2 separate regions of the Homo sapiens genome follow, and region 1 is linked to region 2. The links come from fine-mapping of genetic effects on gene expression. Tissue or cell type: blood mononuclear cells. Region 2 holds a variant in brackets; the other region holds the start of a gene. All regions are shown on one strand. Distances are from middle to middle. Region 1 holds the start of DPH6 (diphthamine biosynthesis 6). Region 2 overlaps DPH6-DT (DPH6 divergent transcript).

The links. PIP is the estimated chance that this variant, and not a neighbour inherited with it, causes the effect.
Region 1: DPH6 starts here. The variant in region 2 is fine-mapped to the expression of DPH6 in blood mononuclear cells (TOPMed, PIP above 0.99).

The regions. Positions count from the first base shown.
Region 1 is chr15:35,544,602-35,547,520 of GRCh38, reverse strand. It overlaps DPH6 (diphthamine biosynthesis 6), which reads left to right and starts at 1,356. Exons shown (of 9, transcript NM_080650.4): 1 at 1,356-1,402. The coding sequence starts at 1,380. It overlaps DPH6-DT (DPH6 divergent transcript), which reads right to left and starts at 1,326. Exons shown (of 3, transcript NR_038251.1): 1 at 1,048-1,326. RefSeq lists silencers at 884-933, 1,234-1,373 and an enhancer at 1,421-2,355.
Region 2 is chr15:35,574,826-35,577,744 of GRCh38, reverse strand. The region is part of intron 1 of DPH6-DT (DPH6 divergent transcript); the gene reads right to left. Among named protein-coding and RNA genes, the nearest start is that of DPH6-DT, 30 kb to the right of the region's middle. The variant A/T (reference allele first, on the strand shown) is at 1,262.

The DNA of each region.
Region 1 (2,919 bases), 30 kb after region 2:
TCATGACTTTCTTTCTCTTGTATCCCATATCGAATTTGATTCTATTGGCTCTATCTTCAAAATAGAGCTGGAATCCTCTTACTTCTCACCAAATTCACCATGTTGATTCTAGGCTCCGCCATCTCTCTACTGGAACACTGTAACAGCTTCCTAATAGGTGGATTCTCAACACTGCAATCCTTTTAAAATTTTAAGTCACACCCTTCAAAAGTCTGCAATTACCTACAAGACCCTATATAATCCTTCCCCTCCATCACCTTAACCTGCTCTCCACTACTCTCTGCTTTGCTCAATCTGCTCCAGCAACACGGATCTGCCTTAATCTTCCACAAACACACAACGCACCTAGAGCCTTCGATTTTTTTTTCTTGTCTGGAGCACACCCCAATCATACACATAGCGAACTCTCCTTATTTAAATTGGCTCAACTCTCATCTTACCAATAAGGCCTACATAGACACGATTTAATTCTGCAATTTGCCTCTCCACCTCTCTCCTGACTCTCCCCCACCGCACCCCGCCCCTTTCCAATAGCACTTTTCACTCTTCAACAGACTATTTACCTTTAAGATATGTATTGTCTGTTCTCTCCATCCCCATTTAAGCTCTATGCCCGGAATGCCGGGTTTTTGTTTTATTTACGGTTGTATCCACAGAGTCTAAAACAGTGCCTGGTACACGAAAGGCACTCAATACATACTTGGCAAATAAACTTAGAAGCTAGATTTTCTTTCTGCAAGGCCATTGCTCTTTGGTGAAGAGCCTGGCCTGGCCTTGTCAAATACACAAGCTTGACCAAGAGCCAAAGCCACAGAGGGCCTAGAGGTGGGGGGGGCTAGCCCCAGATTTAAAAATTACCACAGCCCCTGGGGATCTGAGTTTCACATCTGGACACACAGGTTTGGAGGACAGAGGAGATGTAAGTTAAAAAGCAGAAGTGTACAGTTGTTTCTGTTCTGTGGGGTGAGGAAGGACAAATTTCTTCTGCGCTTGCACGTCCGCAACTGTGTCAATTTGCAGCAATTGGGACGCTAAATCCCCTCTTACCAAAACAAATCCTGCGCCACTGGGCTTGGGCTCTGCAACGCGGACCTTGCCCTTCCCCCGGCAGCTTCAGTGCCCTCACTTAGGTGGTTAGGCCGTGCCTAAACCTCATTCTTTCCTGGGCCGAGATGTCCCTGCCACAGGGTCAAGGTGCCAAGGTGCCGCACCCTCCGCGCTCAGGTGTCCCGCAGGCAGCCGCGGGGCTCGCAGCGCCGATCCGCGGACAGGCGGCGGAGCGAACACCCGGGCGAGGCCCCGCGGTGCGTCACGCGAGCTGCGGCGCGACCTCCTGGCTCCCGCCCGCGCTCGCCGCACGCACGCGCACTGCGCCCAGCATGAGGGTCGCGGCTCTGATCAGGTAATGCGGTCCTGGAGCCGCCTCCTTCCTCCTAGGCCAGGCTCTCGTCCCTTCCAGCCGCCGCTAGCGCCGAAAGAGTGGGTGTCTCCGTCTGAGTCGCGCGTTGGGGGTTCCGCGGCTCCTCCGAGCCACAGGAAGAGGCGGAGCCTTCGCTGTTGCCGGCCCGCATGTGCCTCGGCCCCTGGCTGGCGCGCCTCCTCCCTGTCTGTCGCTCTCTGGTCTTCTAGCCCTTAAACTTGGATTCCCATTGGATTCAAGTGGGAAATTAAAAAAAGTACCGACGCCTGGGCCCCACCGCCAGAGGGATTGGTTTAATTACTTCTGTGCGACCCGGCGTCTGATTTTTTTTTTTCAAGCTCTAATGAGCCGTGAAGTTTGGAGCCACTACCTTATTCCATCAACTCAGTTAATAACCCTCGCCCTTTCCCCCTCGCTTTCTTCGTCCTCTTCTGTAGTTCCTTTGGTCAGCTGGGTCCGCCGCAGCCTGGCTTCCTCCCTAGTTGTAAGTGTTTCCGCCCATCCCAAGAAGTCCACCCCTCCCTCATCTTCACAGATGTGGATTGCTTATGGCATGTGTGTGTTTCTGCCTTTGGGCACTCAAGTACAGAGATCTCTCTTCGTGGTAGAGACCGAATTGTACTAGTCTTATGCTAGATCCAGTTGCTGTTGCTTCGGACTCTCATCATTGCTTTAGAGTGACCTTACCCTATACTCCGTATTCCAAAAGGAGTTTGATGTCTGTAGTAACCAAATCATAAATTTAAGTGTCTAAATAAGTCCTGTGACTGACAAACCAAAAACAAACCTGCTTAAATATTTCCATACTCAATCTATAAACTGAGGCAGAAGGGAACACACTAGCAACATTAAAAAGTTAGACTACTTAAATACTTGTTTCATGAGATTTTGCCCTGTAGAGTGTCTTAGATACAGTGCAACGATGTGCTTGCTTTTGTAATCCAATTGAAGATTTCATAAACGTTTTCGTTAAGTCCCTTAGGTAATTGATACTGGCTGTAAGTTTTGACCTATTAAGGACTTGATATGAGATTTCAGACCTACTGTAGTGTCTGGAATATTCCGGTTCCCTTTCCTTCAATGTCATTTTTAGGAGACTAGACCATAATGTCACAATAATTATTGTTGTTCAGTAAATGTCCTCTGTAACATAAATGATTAAGCTTTAACCATTGTGTCTTATTTTAAGAATTAAAAGTACCCCAGGAAGTGAATAATTCAAATTTACATCGCTTGCCAAAAGTTTAACGATTAAAGTAAAGCACAACAAACAAAGACTTAGAAGTATTGGAGGGGAGGAGAGAAGATTGGTAGAGTCAGTTACACTAAATAACCTGTAATGTGCATATGTTGCTTTATAATAAAAAAAGTTTGCTAAAAAAGCAATGTTGGAAAATTCTTGCTGAAGCGTAAGAGCTGTAAGGACATATGCTGTAAGTATGAATACGTAAGCATTTACCTGTATGCTTATGATACAGATGCCTATGTATTCTATATAT
Region 2 (2,919 bases):
AGGTAAAAGGGTGGGTGGGATATTTTTCCTGAGCAGAAAAATATCAAATCCTAACTGAGGATCAGATAATGCCTCGTGTTGGAGAATGTTTCTCTAGGGGATATGCATTTTATTATATTATCATTGCTATTGTTGAGGCTAGTATTGCAACCATCCCTGTCCTTAGATGACATGAGTTGGTTTTGCATGTTCCCTCATATATGAATCTATGCCTAGATGAAGTAAGTATCTAGACTACCGATGGGGTCTGATATAGATTCAGCAAACCAAATTTCTAAGTATATACCCTTGTTCTGATAGCAGATTAATACCTTGAGGTCGAAGAGTCGGTGCCTAGGTCCTCTTTGTTTCCCTTTACTTTCTGTGTTGATATGTCTGAACAATAGGTCTAAGATAACTCACCATAACACTCAAGGTTCACATATATGAATAAAGATTATTTTTCACATTAGATTTCCCAGAGAGCAAATTATAAGAATACATAAAATATTGTTGATAAATAAGACAAATGGTAACAACCATAGCAGTTTTTAACACTTAACAAATGATTTCTAAATTTGCAATTTCATGACTGAGTTCTTTTTTAAAATTTTTTTATTTTAATTTTTGTGGGTACATAGTAGGTGTATTTATAGGGCACATGAGCTGTTTTGATATAGACACGTAATACATAATAATCATGATTGAGTTCTTAAATCACAAAATGCCTCCAGTCATTATAAAGTTTGTATATTAATTGACAATATAAATGTCTTCAAAAGTTAGTCAAAAGGTTATCAAAACCAAGCCTTTACTGTGGAATTAAAATCTGCCCTATGCATGGACTTTTACATTTTATTGGGTTATTCACCCTCAGTTTTTCTAATATATCTGTTAAAATTTTGTTTCCTCCAAATCTGGCTATGTTATTCTGCTGAGGGCTTGGCAATTCAAGTAGCAGCTCTAAAATTAAAACTGTTGTTGATGTTTTATCCTCTTTGTATCATTTATCCCAAACAGGCCTGGTAGCTATATGCCTGGAGCTAGGTCAGGGCAGAGAAGGCTTCTAAGCCAGCTCACTGCGGCTTAGAATGCTGCAAGCCCATTCCAACCTTCCTTCTCCAGCATTAAGTGGTGGGCTTCCTCTGTGCCATTTCCACACTTGTAAATATTTTAGTCAGCAGGATCCCACAGGAGCAGGGAAAAAAAATCTGACTCTTGCCCTTCTTTTGTTTCACATCTTTTTTTCTCCTTAGAGGGAGAAAAAGGATTTTTAAAAAAA[A/T]TTTTTAAGGCTTTGATCCTGAGAAAAACCAGTTAAACTCTAAGACTTGGTATTTTTCAACAAAAAAATCAGATATTCCTCTTCAGAAAGTTTAGTCTCAATATTGTTATGCTATAAATCAGTGATTTCTAAACTTTCAAATTTTATGAACCTGAATATTAATCAACAATGTAAAAAATTAGGAAATTGACAGAGTTGCCAACTTTTTATATTCCCTCTTTTCATTTTCTCACATGATAATTTTAATACATAATCACTACATTTTATCACTTTAGTATCATGAAAAGACAATTTGACAATGAAGTAGTAGGAAGAATCACTGAATAAAATGCAGTATCTTATTAAATTGAATAAATTTGACTTAATACAATTCCCAATACTTTGTCTTTCTTGTTTTTGCCAGCCCAGTGGAAATATCTTCACTGGTTAGCACCAACTGATACACATTAAAAGCATATTCCGAATGAGCAGAGAGACTTTTTTCAGTTACTGGTGAGTTTCCCATTATTCTTTGCAAAATTGTATTAGAGTTTTCAGGACTAGAAAATATTTGATTAGAATGATGCACCAGTATCTTGCTTCTCAGAAATAGAGATCATTAGAATTTCAGTGACCTTCCAAATCCACTGGGTAGATGCTCTCATTTTGTAGATAAGAAAATCAAGGCCCACTGGAACCCAATTTCTAAATACCAAACAACTTCCCTTAACTACAGGTGTCAGCCTCCATCTGTTTATAGCCATAAGATAGCCTTTCAAGTTTGTAGTCAACATTTGGTGTTTAATAGGTATCAGATACATTCATGTGTTATTTCAGTTAATGCTAATTACAACATTATGCTGTGAGAGTTAGCAGGCCCATTATACAGATCAAGAAAATAAAATTCAATATGTAACTAACTTAAGCTCATACTTCTAGGAAGTGGTAGAGTGCCCATTTAATGGGACTTTCTCCAACTTAATTTTTATGTTTTATAATTCAACTAACAAGCATTTATTGAGTGGCTTCCATAGACCCAGCACCCTGATTAGTGCTACAGGGAAAACAGAAAAAGTGTAAAACATGGTCCTATCCACATGAAATAAAGAAAAATATTGTTAAAGATAGCCAGATAAATATTAACAGGTGGGATATATCCACCTTTTTGCCTCTCCATTTTCTATGGAAACCTCTGTCTTTGCCAGCCCAGTTCCCAAGCGTGTGATACAGAATTGAGAAAACAGGGAGAAAAAGACAGGCTTGGTCAGCGGAGAGAAGTGGGTTGGACACAAAGCACAGAAAGTAGGGAGAACTGAGATTTTCAGAAAAGTTTTTTGGAGAGAGTTGGTGGTGAGAGCTCCAATTCAGCTTTGAGGTGTAAGACCATCAGGGAGAAAGAAAAGACCTTTAGTGAAGTGTGGCTATGGGTTAAAAATTTCATATCTTTAGTGTTCTTCATAAATAGACATAAAGTTTGGAATTCCTTTTTAGTAATTTTTGGTACCTGATATGTTTATTGTACCTCAATCTATTATTATCTCATATCTATATCTATATCTATATATGAGAGCACAGAGTTTGGGGCACAAATACTCCTGAGGGGCATATGGGTTACATAGTAATTATATTCTTACATTTCATTAGCATATTCATCTTTTGGGAAAATATAGATACACATT